2 separate regions of the Homo sapiens genome follow, and region 2 is linked to region 1. A link means that fine-mapping ties the variant in region 1 to the expression of a gene that starts in the linked region. Tissue or cell type: fibroblasts. Region 1 holds a variant in brackets; the other region holds the start of a gene. All regions are shown on one strand. Distances are between the middles of the regions.

Region 1 (8,182 bases):
CTGCCTGGGTGACGTAGTAAGACCTGCTCTCTTTAAAAAAAAACAAAAAAGGTAAATGATGGCCAAATAATTCTTCGCTTTTTTTTTTGAGACGGAGTCTCTCTCTGTCACCCAGGCTGGAGTGCAGCGGCACAATCTTGGCTCACTGCAACCTCTGCCTCCTGGGTTCAAGCAATTCTCCTGCTTCAGCCTCCCAAGTAGCTGGGATTACAGGCATGCACCACCACATCTGGCTGATTTTTTGTATTTTTTTTTTTTTTTTTTTTTTTGAGACAGAGTCTCGCTCTGTCGCCCAGGCTGGAGTGCAGTGGCGGGATCTCGGCTCACTGCAAGCTCCGCCTCCCGGGTTCACGCCATTCTCCTGCCTCAGCCTCCCAAGTAGCTGGGACTACAGGCGCCCGCCACTACGCCCGGCTAATTTTTTGTATTTTTAGTAGAGACGGGGTTTCACCGTTTTTTAGCCGGGATGGTCTCGATCTCCTGACCTCGTGATCCGCCCGCCTCGGCCTCCCAAAGTGCTGGGATTACAGGCGTGAGCCACCGCGCCCGGCCGATTTTTTGTATTTTTAATAGAGATGGGGTTTCGCCATGTTGGCCAGGCTGGTCTTGAATGCTCGACCTCAGGTGATCCACCCGCCTCGGCCTCCCAAAGTGCTAGGATTACAGGGGTGAGCCACTGCGCCCAGTCAATAATTCCTTTCTTAGCAGTGTAAACATTTGTGGCTATTAGTAAATAACTGATGTTGTTCAAAGACTTGGCTAGCCAGCAACAAAAAAGGCAACAATGCACTTCCTATCCATCATCTACAATTCATTACATTACATAAGACAGTGAAAGCAAAGAAAAATGCATTCTAGAGATATAATGTACCACTATGAAAATTTATCTTCAGTTTTTAAAAAGTTATTGTGTGAATTTTCCATGCTGCTATTGCTTTGTATTAAAAAATGAAAAAAGCCAAATGAAATGCTAAAACTGGGATCTGAATAGTTTTGATATGAAGATAATAAGTAACCTAGTTAACTAAGAAGTATTTTATAAACTTAACCGTTCCATATGAGAAGGAAAAAGCCAGGAAGGATTTCTTAAATCCTGAGCAATCCTCAACTCCCGATCTTGGAGGAACTCCCTCCCCACCCACCTATTCCTGTCAAGAATCGTCTGTTCTCTCTGGCTCAGGTACAGGCATAGTAGCACAGACTCTCTCCCAGGGAGTTAATAAATAGAGCAAAATAAATGTTACTTAATTGGGTACTGTGTATTATGGGCTGAACTGTGTCTCCCCCAAAATTAGTATGTTGAAGCTCTGACCCCCCAGGACCTCAGAATGTGACTGTATTTGGAGATAGGGCCTTCAAAGAGGTGATTCAGTTAAAATGAGGCCATTTAGGGTGGGCACTAATCCAATCTGACTGGTATCCTCCTAAGAAGAGGAAATGGGGACACACACAGATACCAGGGGTGTGCGTGCACAGGGAAAATGCCACATGAAGACACAGTGAGAAGGCAGCCATCTGCGAGCCAAGGAGAGAGGCTTCCGGAAAAAAAACAAACTTGCCGACACCTTGAGCTTGGGACTGTTAGCCTCTAGAAGCATATGAAAAGTAATTTCTGTTAAGCCACCTGATCTGTGGTATTTTGTTATGGAAGTCCTAGCAAATTAATACACTGTTTCCATATTTAAAATGAGTTAAATATATATTGGAAACCAAATTTCCACAGCATACAGACTTGCTGTGGTGTGTAGCCACTTCCATTTTTAAGAAAAGCTTTGGCACCTTGCCGATCCCCAGAGATCCAGTCTCTGCTATATTTACATTCCTGTTAGAAAATCAGACCGGTCTCAGGTTTAGTCAGTCTCCAGGAATTGAGAGCTCCCAGTCTGGCAAAACCAACCTCTGCAACCACGTCAAAGGATAAGTATAGGCTTTCAAAAGAGAAAGTTAATTTTTATTTTCAACCAGATTGTTAACTCTCAGCTGCATGCGAATCATTTACTTATGGAATTTTCATCTTGAATTATTGGCACTACGTATGTGGGGGTCAAAAAAATTAATTCATCCATTGCCTAAGAAAACTATCCTCACGGCCTGGCACAGTGGCTCACGCCTGGAAGAAACAATGCACTTCCTATCCATGATCAGTGATTTTTTTTTTTTTTTTTTTTTTTTTTGAGATGGAGTCTTGCTCTGTTGCCAGGCTGGAGTGCAGTGGCACAATCTCGGCTTACCGCAACCTCTGCTTCCCAGGTTCAAGCAATTCTCCTGCCTCAGCCTCCTGAGCAGCTAACACTACAGGCACATGCCACCATGCCCAGCTAATTTTTGTATTTTTAGTAGAGATTGGGTTTCACCATGTTGGCCAAGATGGTCTCGATCTCTTGACCTCGTGATCTGCCTTCCTCGGCCTCCCAAAGTGCTGGAATTACAGGTGTGAGCCACTGCGCCAGGCCGATCGGCAATTCTTAATCCCAGTACTTTGGGAGGCTGAAGTGTGAGGACTGCTTGAGCACAGGAGTTCGAGACCAGCCTGGGCAATATAGTGAGACTCTGTCTCTAAAACCTAATAAAATTAGCCTGGCATTGTGGCATACGCCTGTAATCCCAGCTACTCAGGAGGCTAAGGTAGGAGGAATGCCTGAGCCCAGGAAGTCAAGGCTGCAGTGAGCCTGATCATACCATCATTCACTCCAGCCTGAGTGACAGAGTGAGACTGTCTAAAAAAAAAAAAAAAAAAAGAAAGAAAGAAAGAAAGAAAACTATCATTGGGAGGAGCATTTACTATCTGTAATCTGTGCTCCTCCTGCTCCTTTTTCCATTAGCATGGAAAAAGGAATATACGTTTCTGTTGCTTTGATTTTGTATAGGCATAACAACAGTAACTCACCTTAAGTATTTGGAGAGTACATTAATAGCATCCATGGTGTCTTTGTTTTCCTTATATAGTACGAAGTGGCAGTAACTTCCCCTAGATTTTGGCCAAGAATGTTTTCTTGGATCTTGAAAGCAAAAGAATTAACATTATATATACCATAATAAAAGTTATAGATGTAAGAGCTCATTTTTCGCTATAGAACCTTTGAGTGGAAAATCAGTTCTAGTCTGATAAAGAAATACAGGTTAAGTGGTTATAGCTGTGTGGACTAGAGGTATTACATTTCCTGTAATTGGACACTTAACATTATCTATCCATATTAAAAATAAAAAGCTAAAATGTGGCTGGGCACGGTGGCTCACACCTGTAATCTCAGGACTTTGGGAGGCCAAGGCGGGCAAGATGGCTTGAGCTCAGGAGTTCAAGACTGGCCTGGGCAACATGGCAAGACCCGTCTCCACTAAAAATAGCCAGGCATGGTGGTACACGCCTGTGGTCCCAACTACTCAGATGGCTGAGGTGGGAGGATCACATGAACATGTAGGGTGGAGGTTGTAGTGAACCGAGATCATGCTACTGCACTCCAGCATGGGTGACAGAGCAAGACCCTGTCTCAAAAAATAAATAAAAGAAAAACATTTTTAATTAAAAAAAAGAACATAAAAAAATTAAGCCAGGTTAAATGTTAACTTCTGAGCAGCTAGTGTTACTTCAGTTGTTCAATCCTGTGTTAAACAATGTAAGATTTAGGCCGAGTGTAATCCCATGCACTGTAATCCCAGCACTTTGGGAGGCTGAGATGGGCGGATCACCTGAGGTCAGGAGTTTGAGACAAGCCTGGCCAACATGGTGAAACCCCGTCTCTACTAAAAATACAAAAATTAGCTGGGCATTGTGGCGAGTGCCTGTAATTCCAGCTACTTGGGAGGCTGAGGCAAGAGAATTGCTTGAACCCAGGAGGTGGAGGTTACCGAGCCAAGATCGTGCCATTGCATTCCAGCCTGGGCAACAAGAGCGAGACTCCGTCTCAAAAAAAAAAAAAAGTATGCATATCTACACACACACACATATATATATATATATATATATATATATATAGAGAGAGAGAGAGAGAGAGAGAGAGAGGGAGAGACACATACATATATATGCTTTAGATTTAAGCTGCTCAAAATGTTTTTTTTTAAGTACTTTGGGAAAAATATGTAAGCCTAAACTGCACTTTATAGACGCTGTACAATAACATTCATGAGTCCTGTGTGGCACAGAGCTGCAGTTGTTACTTAAACAACACATCTAGTTCATTTGATTACTGTAACTCCATGAAAGAAAAACTGAAAAAATGTTTCATACAACAATTCCTAGAAAGAGTCCTCTTCTTTTAAAAATAATCCTTTTTCATGAACTCATGAATCCCTTATCTTCAGAGGCTTAAGATACTGCTGGTACCGAAGCTGGTACTTGGATACCTGGCTTTGTCAAGGCAAAAGCACTGTTTGGTAAGTTAGTGATAAGTTACAATGAAAAGAACAAAAGACTCCATAAACCATTTCAGAAAACTGCCATAGCATGTATGCTTAGTGAATCACCCTTCCTTCTTGATAAATATGTGAGTTTTTTCTGTCTTGGACAGA[AAAGTATTAC/A]AAGTATTTCTTTAGTCCTTGGTGTGAATTCCTCACAAGTTCTTCAGAAAACTGTTGAGCAGGAATATCATTTTCGGTTTTCCTTCCAGCTCACTATCAGTTAAGCAAAGTTGTCTATACTTAGCACTTGTGACAAAATCTTTGGCATTTCACTTTATCTACATGAAATGCCAAATGCTCTTACCTGCTGCAGTTCTGACCTCTGTCCAAATGCACAGCATAAAGAGCACAAAAGAGCAATGTTTAATTTATAATATTAAAGTGCTTTAGAGGTGAACATGCAAATGATCGCATGGTTAAGTTTACACTGAGGACTTCTACAGCACCCGGTAGTTATGCGGTGGGTTAACAGCCATTTAGACATTAACAATGGAATGTTTTAGAGGCAAACAGTGAACAAGTAGAAAACTCTTCTACAGGTGCAGCCTCCTTGTCTCAATCCCTTCACAATGGGCATGTTAGTTCACGCTCAAAGCTGCACTGTCTGTACCCATGAGATGAAGCAAAAGGTTTAAGGATAGTAAATGCTTCCCCAAAAAGAGATCTGTTTACTTAAATATGGGAGGACATGTACCAAAATGCTATTTGTGATTATCTTTTTTTTGATAGTGAGACAAGTAACTATTGCTTTGCTTTTTCTGCGTTTCATGAATTTCTTGCATTGAATTATAAAGACTTTTAAATTTGAAAAATGTTAAATATTATAGAAAACAGCTAAGTTCTTTATAGATTAAAAAAGATTTAAGAGACGACTTAAGAGGCTTATCAATGAGTGCAATGTTCTGACCTTGTTTTTATCATTCTTTGAACAAGCCATCTGCATATAAAAAAGACATTTTTGAGATACAGCAAAACCAAATATGCAATAGGTATGTGATAGGAAGAAATTATTGTTGATGTTTTTGGATGTGATAATAGTTTGGGGTTTCAGTCCTCATCTGGCAAATAGATACTGAAATATTTATGAGTGAAAAGCCATGCTATGTAGAATTTCCTTTAAAATGCTCCAGCAAGAAAAAAAAGGAGGAAGGATAAATCAATAAAACAACAGAATGTTGATAATCTTAAAGATGGTTTATGGGTACATAGGTTCCATATACTATTTCCTCTATTTGACTGCAAGTTTGAAAATGTCCATAATAAAAACTTTAAAAACACTTGTGATAAAAGTTGATGAAGTGTAGCTACATTTTTCTCAACTACCCCTTTGGAGTATTCATAATTAAGTATAATGACAAGAAATAAATGAAGCCACAAGACTCAAAAACTAAATGCTGCTATACCTTAAGAGAAACCATGACAACAGAGTATGAGTTTTGGCTCACAAGCATGCATCTTCTATTTAGCAAATCCAAGCACTGAGCATGCATACAATTATCTCCTTTGCAAACAACAGATACAAGTATGCATTCTTTTTCTAAGTACACTCAATATACAAAATAGTAAGCATATGCATTGATTAACTGGGAATATTTTAAATAACAGAAAATCAATGAGTCTCCATTTATTTTGGGCAATTTGTGTGACTTTATAAAACTCCACCCCCTAAGAATGCTAAGCAGCATATACTTAGCTTTACAATTTGAATGAATTTAAAATAACTTGCAGACATTTTTGAGACACTGATTTATACTGCAAATGCACAGAATTCCCAGGCTGGGTAATATGGTTCCTATTTGAAGAAGGCTGCATCCAGCTTCTGAGGGCCTAACAAGGCAGTCCCAGTCTAGCAGAAATGGAAACCAGATAAAAGGGAAACCAAGTTCAGGAAGTTTGATTTATTGAGCACAGACATCTCCATGAATAAAGAAGGAAAAATGTTTCTAGCTGAGAAAGATGAAAAGATGGGGTAGCATGCGGAACATTCCTTCCTTCTTATTCAAGGTCATTCCCACCATCACACCCCTGCACACCAACCTTCAGCTTTTTCAGGGATCCTACTCCATCCATTATCTTTATTTTGTTATTTGCCTCCCTGAATTTTCACCTTCTCTCTCCATTGTCTCTTTCCTTTTTGAAAATATATATTTTTCTTTTTATAGAGATGAGGTTTTGCCATGTTGGCCAGGCAGGTCTGGAACTCCAGGCCTCAAGTGATCTGCCCGCCTCGGCCTCTCAAAGTGCTGGGATTACAGGCGTGAGCCACTGCGCCTGGCCCTCCATTGTCTCCCTTGCATATATAAATAACTCACAGCTCTTCCATCTTAAAAGCCTAACCTATGTTCCCCTCTCCTTAATTATGTTCGCTTCTTCTCCTCTTTGCAGGTTATTTGAAAAAGCAGTCTGTATATACTACCTTCCATCTCAACCTACTATGTAAACTGGTTTCCAACCTCATCATTCCACTAGAATGCTCCGGTGAAAAGACACCAACAACTTCCATGTTGCTAAACTGATAGACAGGTTTCAGAGTAATTATCTTGCTGGACCTATCTGTAGCATTTTCCATTGCCACAGGAATGGAAGCAATGGTAGTCCATTGATCACTCTGATTATTGGGATTCCCTATTCCTGTGGATTCTATAACACCAGTCTTTCCCAGAGAGCTTCTTTGTACCTGTCTAGCTCTTCCTCCTGAGTCTCTATGGATTCCTACATACAGGGATCCCTCCTGGGGACCATTCATTTCAGAAAGTATAGAGAACCTGTACCTATCACATGGCAGAATTTTCTTTTTTTTACATAAGTCTTTAAAAACTATGTTCTTAGAAGCATTTGGAATGTATACTGTCTCAAAATATAAATTAATTTATCAGTAATGTTATGATAGTTTAGATGGTATTTTAAAAAAAAATCACATATACATTTTGGTAGGTAAAGCAATGTGCCCTATCAGACTGGCTTAACACATAAAATAATGTCTGAGTTTAAATAGTTGGTAATTTGTGGTGTTTGGGAACAATGATTTAGAATCCACCACATCTATGTTTTAGGATGCACAGTTCTATCTGAGAAAAGTTCAGGTTAAGAATATTGTGAATCTGCTAGATAATGCATAATAACAATTTCTATCAGGATCTGGTAGTAATACAGCTAAAAAAAAACTGTAAATTACAAAGCTTTGTAATGATACTTTAAAAGCTAAATCATTCAAATGCTAGGCAAGATGGCTCAGGAGGACAAGCTGTCGCTGGTAGAGGGCCATGAACAATAATCTTTGGATACCAGCTCTTCCTCCTTTCCTAGGGGTGTTCACTTTAGGCCACTCTCAGCTTGGGGAGAGTGGGGTCTATAAAAATGAATGCAGGCTCCTAAGTGCCCATCTGTGCCAGGGGTGGCCTTCCATGAGGAGGTGGGAGAGATGGCAGAGATTTAGTCCATCTTTGAAGAAATGTCACAACACCACAAGCCCAAGAAGTGTGGTTCTCTATACAAGAGGGAGTTGATCCAATCTGACTTCCTTCTTGCTTCTTTTTAAAGTGAGAAATTCCTTTCTTACTGAAGGTGTCCAAACGAAAATGGGGAAGGGTGGTTCACATCGCACAGCTCAGTACTTCACTTGTAAAATCTTAAGGAAACTTCGTAACAACAACAACAAAAAAAAGAAAGGCGGGTGTCGCATAAGCAGAGAAAATGTGGATAAAAACACAACATGAGAGACCTGGCGCTGTGTTTAATGAAGGGGATGGGTAGAAAGGCTGTAATGGCTGCTTTGGCCTGCAAATGC
Region 2 (8,182 bases), 25 kb after region 1:
TGGCGATGGAGTCTTACCCTGTTACCCAGGCTGGAGTACAGTGGTGTGATCTCTGCTCACTGCAACCTCCACCTCCTGGGTTCAAGTGATCCTCCCGCCTCAGCCTCCCAAGTAGCTGAGAGTACATACAGGCATGCGCCAACACGCCTGGCTAATTTTTGTATTTTTAGTAGAGACGGGTTTTCACCATGTTGGCCAGGCTGGTCTTGAACTCCTGACCTCAGGTGATCTGCCTGCCTCGGCCTCCCAAAGTGCTGGGATCACAGGCATGAGCCACCACGCCTGGCCAATCCTTCACATTTCTTTGGAGGGAATGCTAAAATAATGTTTTTTGTTTCCTCTGCACTCCAAATGAGACAACTGAGAATAGAAATATTATAATTTTAACAGTATTTTAAAACCCTTTTCATTAAAATACTAGATTCACCAACTAAGCTTTAAGAAGTACTCTTAGCTGGGCATGTGTGCATGTAGTCCCAGCTAACAGGGCGGCTGAGGCAGGAGGATTGTGTGAGACCAGTTTAAGGCTGCAGTAAGTTATGATCACACCACTGCACTCCAGTCTGGGCAACAGAGGGAGACTTCATCTCTGAAAAAATGCAGGCAGGTAGATGGCTTGAGACCAGGAGTTTGAGACCAGCATGGACAACATAGTGGGACCATGTCTCTGCAAAAAATTAAAAAATTAGCCAGGCAGCTGGGTGTGGTGTCTCATGCCTGTAATCCCAGCACTTTCGGAGTCCGAGGTGGGCAGATCACAAGGTCAAAAGTTCGAAATCAGCCTGGCCAGCATGGCGAAACCCCATTTCTACTAAAAATCCAAAAATTAGCCATGCATGGTGGTGTGGCCCTGTAATCCCAGCTACTCAGGAGGCTGAGACAGGAGAATCGCTTGAACTGGGGAGACAGAAGTCGCAGTGAGCCGAGATTGCGCCACTGCACTCCAGCCTGGGTGACAGAGGGAGACTCTGTCTCAAAAAATAAATAAAAATAAGCCGGGCAAGGTGGCATGCACCTGTAGTCCCAGCTACTTGTGAGGCTGAGGTGGGAAGATCCACTGCGCCCAGGACGTTGAGGCTGCAGTAAGCCGTGATGGTGCCACTACACTTCAGCCTGGGTGACAGAAAGACCCTGTCTCAAAAAAAAAATAAAATCCTTTACACCTATAACAAAAATTAAGTTTAGCATTTTCAAAATTTTAATATAACACTAACAACAGTCTCTTGTTTGTTTATTTATTTATTTTTTGAGACAGTGTCTCACTCTGTCACCCAGGCTGGAGTGCAGTGGCGTGATCTCAGTTCAATGCAGCCTCGACCTCCCAGCTCAAGCGATCCTCCCACTTCAGCCACCCGAGTAACTGGGACTACAGGCATGTGCCACCATGCCCAGTTAATTTTTGTATTTTTTGTAGAGACAGGGTTTTGCCATGTTGCCCACTAGTCTCAAACTCCTGAGCTCAAGTGATCTGCCCTGCCTCAACTGGGATTACAGGTGTGCACCACCGCCCAGGCCAAACAGTCCCTTATTAATTAATTCCTCCAAAATAAACATCAGAAAAACAGCCATTAGTCTTTTTTTGAATTATTTTTTATTTTATTTTGTATATTTTTTGAGACGGAGTCTCACTCTATTGCCCAGGCTGGAGTGCAGTGGCGCAATCTCGGCTCACTGCAACCTCTGCCTCCCGGGTACACGAGATTCTCCTGCCTCAGCCTCCTGAGTAGCTGGGATTACAGGCGCCCGCCACAACACCAGGCTAATTTTTTGTATTTTTAATAGAGATGGGCTTTCACCGTGTTATCCAAGATTGTCTCGAACTCCTGACCTCATGATTCGCCCGCCTCGGTCTCCCAAAGGGCTGGGATTACAGGCCTGAGCCACCGCGCCCAGCCTACAAAAACAGCCATTAGTCTTAATTCTATCATATTATATTTCAAAACTATCCACAACTTTCACTTTGTAAATACATCTTTCCTCCATCCCCTGCAAATTATCAGTAATCTCTATAGCTCTCACAATAGTGAGCATTTTCTTTAGGGCCAGAGCACAGAGAACACACTAATTTTTTTTTTTTTGGAGATGGAGTTTTCCTCTGTTGCCCAGGCTGGAGTGCAGTGGTGCAGTCTCGGCTCACCGCAATCTCCACTTCCAGCGTTCCGGCGATTCTCCTACCTCAGCCTCCCGAGTAGCTGGGATTACAGGCATGGGCTAAAATTACCACATCCAGCTAATTTTTGTATTTTTAGTAGAGAGGGGGTTTCGCCATGTTGGCCAGGATGGTCTCAAACTACTGACCTGACCTCAAACGAGCTGCCTGCCTCGGCCTCCCAGAGTGCTGGGATTACAGGCATGATGTCACCAGGCCCGGCAGACACACTGCATTCTAATATGCAAAATCATTAAGTCTATGAGGGTCATTCATTCTGCAAATATTTACTGAGCAAGTGTCCTATGTGTCTGGCATTGTTGTAGGTACTGGAAGAAAAGGGTAATACCATTTCCTGTCCTCATGTAGCTTACAATGTATTTGAGAATATATCTGAGAACAAAATAAATCTCAGGACATGCGAGCTCCAAAGAATTAAAACAGGGTAAGGGGCTGAGAGTAAGAGGGGTGTTCTTCAGTGATGCCTCGTCTAAGGAGGAGACTTCTGAGCAAAGACAAGGAAGAACCAGACAGGAAAAGATGTGTGTGAGGAGAGCTCCAGGCAGCCCGAACAGCACGTGTAAAGGACCTGAAACCGGAGCAAACTTAGTCGACAGTATGACCAGCTGGATTGTTCTCTCTCTCTCCTAGGTAAGGAAAAACGCTGCTTCATTAATACAGTACATGCATGCCCCTGCCTCTATCAAAAGACACGTTCAAGGCCGGGTGTGATGGCACACGCCTGTAATCCCAGCACTTCGGAAGGCTGAGGCGGGTGGATCACCTGAAGTCTGAAGTTCAAGACCAGCCTGGCCAACATGGTGAAACCCCGTCTCTACTAAAAATACAAAAATTAGGCGGGGCGCGGTGGCTCACGCCTGTAATCCCAGCACTTTGGGAGGCAGAGGCGGGCAGATCATGAGGTCAGGAAATCGAGACCATCCTGGCTAACACAGTGAAACCCCGCCTCTACTAAAAATATAAAAAATTAGCCGGGCGTGGTGGCGGGCGCCTGTAGTCCCAGCTACTCGGGAGGCTGAGGCAGGAGAATGGCGTGAACCCGGGAGGCGGAGCCTGCAGTGAGCCGAGATCGCGCCACTGCAATACATCTCCAGCCCTCAAGCTGGGTGAATGCTTAACGAGTGGATGGAGGTGCTGCCTCTGCAATACATGTGGGCGACAGAGCGAGACTGTCTCAAAATAAATAAATAAATAAATAAATAAATAAATAAATAAATAAAAATACAAAAATTAGCTGGGCATGGTGGCGTGCACATGTAATCCCAGCTACTCCGGAGGCTGAGGCAGGAGAATCGCTTGAACCCAGGAGGCTGAGGTTGCAGTGAGCCAAGATCGTGCCATTGCACTCCAGCCTGGGTGATGGAGTGAGACTCCGTCTAAAAAAAATAAATCAAAAAACAAAGATATGTTCAAGGCCGAGTGTGGTTGCTCAAGCCTGTAATTCCAGCACTTTGGGAGGTCAAAGCAGGAGGATTGCTTAAGGTCAGGAGTTTGAGGCCAGGCTGGGCAACACAGCGAGACCCTGTGTGGTGGCACATGCCTATAGTCCCAGCTACTTGGGAGGCTGAGGTGAGAGGATTGCTTGAGCCCAGGAGTTCAAGGCTGCAGTGAGCGATGATCACGCAACTGCACTCCAGCCTGGGCAACAAGAGCAAAATTCTGTCTCAAAAAAATTAAAAAAATAAAAATAAAAAAACCAAAAACATGTTCACAAGGAGTTGTTAAGTACGTACTGTTGGCTACTTTCCTAATGTTTGAACCTAACAATTGCCTAACCAACCCCTTTTCAATAGTGTTGTACAGTCTGATTTTCGACAGATCCCTCAATAGTCGAGGCTCCCCCAGGCCAATGGGGCATAGTCATTTCATAGATGATTAGAGGCTTGGGGATGGGGGGGAGGGAACCTTAGTAACCCTTTATTTTTGGAATGGAAAAAAAAAGTAGTCTGACGGGACCAAATATTTTAAAAACTAAACTCTTTGCCAACCCTACTCGGCAGGCAACGAAGGTGTGCTTCTAAACACCTCTGCGCAGGGCTGACGAGGAGGACTCGAATTTCAGCTTGCACAGCAGCACCTCCATCCACTCGTTAAGCATTCACCCAGCTTGAGGGCTGGAGAAAGCACTCTGAGTCTGCAGCCCGTCCACTCCTACTCTGGGAAATGCATACAAAGCAAGCAGTCCCCAGAGCCCGCGTGGCGCCTAGTAGGCTCCCAGTGAGCGGCGACGCAGGACACAGGGGTGGAACACGTGGGCTGGACCCACAGAAGGCAGGCGCGGCGAAGCAGTGGCACCGTGAAGGGCTTCAGGGCCAGTGTTCCTCTGACGGAGGGACAAGAGTTTAGGGAGCGTCCGGGGCAAAGAAAGGGAGGAGTGGGAAGGGGGCCCCCGGGGGACAGCGCCGCGCGGGGAGGAGGGGAGCGCTCGGGCGCGGCGCCTCCGGACGACTGGCCGGGCAGAGCGGAGCGGGGAGCGGGGAGCGGAGAGCGGCGCCTGCACCGCCGAAGCGCAGGACCCACTGGGTTCCAACCGTGCTCCCGCTGGCACGATCCATAATGGAGGCGCCGCGGGCTCTGACCACTGCGGGGCCGCCTTCCCAGTCCGCCTTCCCAGTCCGCACTGCCTCTTGGGGCGGGGCCCTGGGGCTGGGGCTGGGGCCAGGGCCAGGCCGAGGAGCCCCGGCGGCCGCGGGGAGGCCGCGCACTTACCCGGAGCCTGGGAGCGCGGGCGCGGCGTGAGCTGGGCGGCGAGGTGGCCAGCGCTCTGGTTGGGACGCAAGAGAGCGGCGAAGGCCACTTGGATGAGCCAGCGGCTAGGGCGGCCAGGCAAAAGCAGCGCTTTCCGCGCGGAGGACCAGATGCGCTCCAGCCGACTCACCGGCGGCCGGGCTCGCACACGTGCGGCGCAGCGACGCGCCGCGGCCCGACTGGACCCGCCCCGGGGGCGGAGTCCGCTCCCTGCCGCCGGCCCCGCCCCCGGCCCACCCACTCGGAGCGGCCTGCAAGCCAGGGAGCGCCCCAACGCGGACTCCCAGCCTACGCGCGTTCACCCTGGACCTTCCTCGCGACCGCGCCTGAGTCGCACCAGCGGCAGAGAGCGATTTCACCAAGCATCTAAGAGTTCTTTAGATCTTTAGGAAGTCTAAGGCAGCGATTGCCTCCTTTGGTGTTATATTCTAAGTGTTTCCTTCACATAGTTGTGGCCCTTTCACGTTGCACCGACCACGCAGTTGACAATAATGGAAAGAGAATCACTTTAGGGACTAAATATTGTTCTACATTTGATCCTGGGAATGTAGTGGATCTAAAAGCACCATCTTCCTACTTCTTACCGCTCTGGCTTGATGGCTTGCCATAGGATCTGCTTCAAGAAACCGGATCATAGGTTTTTTTTGTTTTGGTTTGGTTTGGTTTTGACAGAGTCTCGCTCTGTCGCACAGGCTGGAGTGCGGTGGCGTGAACACAGTTCACTGCAGCCTCGACCTCCCAGGCTCAAGCAATCCTCCCACTTCAGTATCCCAAGTAGCTGGGACTACAGGTGCATCCCACCGCACCCAGGCTAATTTTTTTGGGGGTGGGGGGTAGAGACAAGATTTCACTATGTTGCCCAGGCTCTAATAGTTTTTTTGCTTTTTGTTTGTTTGTTTGTTTTTTGAGACGGAGTCTTGCTCTGTCGCCCAGGCTGGAGTGCAATGGCGCGATCGCTGCTCACCGCAACCTCCGCCACCCGGGTTCAAGCGATTCTCCTGCCTCAGCCTCCCGAGTAGCTGGGATTACTGGCGCACGCCACCATGCCCGGCTTATTTTTTGTATTTTTAGTAGAGTACGGGGTTTCACTATGTTGGCCAGGCTGGTCTCGAACTCTTGACTTCGTGATCCGCCCGCCTCCGCCTCTGTGTTGAGATTACAGGCGTGAGCCACCGCTCCCAGCCTCTAATAGTTTTTCCGTTTTGTTTTATTTTGTTTGAGAGAGAGTCTCACTCTGTTGCAGGGTTCAAGCGATTCTCCTGCATCAGCCTCCCGAGTAGCTGGGCCTACGAGTGCTTGACATCATGCCAGACTAATTTTTTTGACGGGGTTTTTGCCTGTTGGCCTTGAACTCCTGACCTCAAGTGATTTGCCTGCCTAGGCCTCCCAAAGTACTGGGATTATAGGCATGAGCCACCATGCCCTGCCCAATTTGTTTTTTTGTTTTGTTTTTTACACAATGAAATATACTATTACCGGCCGGGCGCAGTGGCTCACGCCTGTAATCCCAGCACTTTGGGAGGCCGAGGTGGGCGGATCATGAGGTCAGGAGTTTGAGACCAGCCTGGCCAACATGGTGAAACCCCGTCTCTACTAAAAATACAAAAAATTACCCAGACGTGGTGGCACGCGCCTGTAATCCCAGCTACTTGGGAGGCTGAGGCAGGAGAATCGCTTGAACTCAGGAGGCGGAGGTTGCAGTGAGCTGAGATCGCACCATTGCACTCTAGCTTGGGCAACAAGATGGAAACTCTGTCTCAAAAAAAAAAAAAGAAATATATTATTACCATACAATTCAGCAATTACACTCCTTGATATTTACCTAAAGGAGTTGAAAACTATGTTCACACAAAAACCTGCACAAGTATGTTTATAGCTGCATTATTCATAATTGCCAAAACTTAAGGACGGGCCGGGTATGGTAGCTCACGCCTGTAATTCCAGCACTTTGGGAGCCCGAGGTGGGCAGATCACGATGTCAGGAGTTCAAGACCAGCCTGGCCAAGATGGTGAAACCCCCATCTCTACTAAAAATACAAAAATTAGCCAGGCGTGATGGTGGGCGCCTGTAATCCCAGCTACTCAGGAGGCGGAGGCAGAAAATTGCTTGAACCCAGGAGGCAGAGGTTGTGGTGAGCCAAGATCATGCCACTGCACCCCAACCTGGGGGACAGAGTGAGACTCCGTCTCAAAAAAAAAAAGACCAAGATGTCCTTCAGTAGCTGAATAAACTGTGCTGTATCCAAACAATGGAATATTATTTGGTGCCAAAAAGAAATGATCTTAGCAAGCCATGAAAAGACATGGAGGAAACATAAATAAATATTTTTTATTTTATGTATTTATTTATTCTGAGATCTAAATAGATAAGGTGATCTGCCCACCTCGGCCTCCCGAAGTGCTGGGATTACAGGCGTAAGCCACCATGCCCAGCCTTAAACGCATATTACTAAGTGAAAGAAACCAATCTGGGCCAGGCATGGTGACTCAGGCCTGTAATCACAGCATTTTGTGAGGCTGAGGCAGGTGGATCACTTGAGGTCAGGAGTTCGAGACCAGCCTGGCCAACACCGTGAAACCCCATCTCTACCAAAAATACAAAAAATTAGCCAGGCATGGTGGCACACACCTGTAATCCCAGCTACGCGGGAGGCTGAGGCGGGAGAATTGCTTGAACCTGGGAGGTGGAGGTTGGGGTGCGTCGGGATCATGCTATTGCACTCCAGCCTGAGCGACAGAGTAAGACTGTCTAGAAAACAACAACAACAACAACAACAAAAAAAAAAAACAAAAAAAATCTGAAAAGGACACGAGCTATATGAATCCAACTAAATGACAAAATGACATTCTAAAAAAGGCAAAACTATATAAGACAGTAATAAAATTAGTGGTCGCCAGGAGTTAGGAGAAAGGGAAGGATGAATAGGTGGAGCACAGAGAATTTTTAGGGAAGTGAAACTATTCTGTATGATACTGTAATGCTGGCTGTATGTCATGATACATTTGTCCAAGCCCATAAAATCTACAACAGGGGTCCCCAGCCCCCCCAAGTCACGGACTGGTACCAGTCAGTGTGGCCTTTTGGGAACCAGGCTGCACTGCAGCATTCCCGCCTGAGCTCTGCCTCCTGTCAGATCAGTGGTGGGATTAGATTCTGATAGGAGCGAGAACCCTACTGTGAACTGCACATGTGAGGGATCTAGGTTGCATGCACCTTATGAGAATCTAATGCCTGATGATCTGAGGTGTAACAGTTCATCCTGA

Evidence for each region. PIP is the estimated chance that this variant, and not a neighbour inherited with it, causes the effect.
Region 2: PUS7 starts here. The variant in region 1 is fine-mapped to the expression of PUS7 in fibroblasts (GTEx, PIP above 0.99).

What each region holds. Positions count from the first base shown.
Region 1 is chr7:105,492,255-105,500,436 of GRCh38, forward strand. It overlaps PUS7 (pseudouridine synthase 7), which reads right to left. Exons shown (of 16, transcript NM_019042.5): 6 at 2,888-2,999. Among named protein-coding and RNA genes, the nearest start is that of PUS7, 26 kb to the right of the region's middle. The variant AAAGTATTAC/A (reference allele first, on the strand shown) is at 4,507.
Region 2 is chr7:105,517,173-105,525,354 of GRCh38, forward strand. It overlaps PUS7 (pseudouridine synthase 7), which reads right to left and starts at 5,099. Exons shown (of 16, transcript NM_019042.5): 1 at 4,880-5,099. RefSeq lists enhancers at 2,994-3,611, 3,926-4,580, 5,864-6,364 and silencers at 4,123-4,268, 4,478-5,227.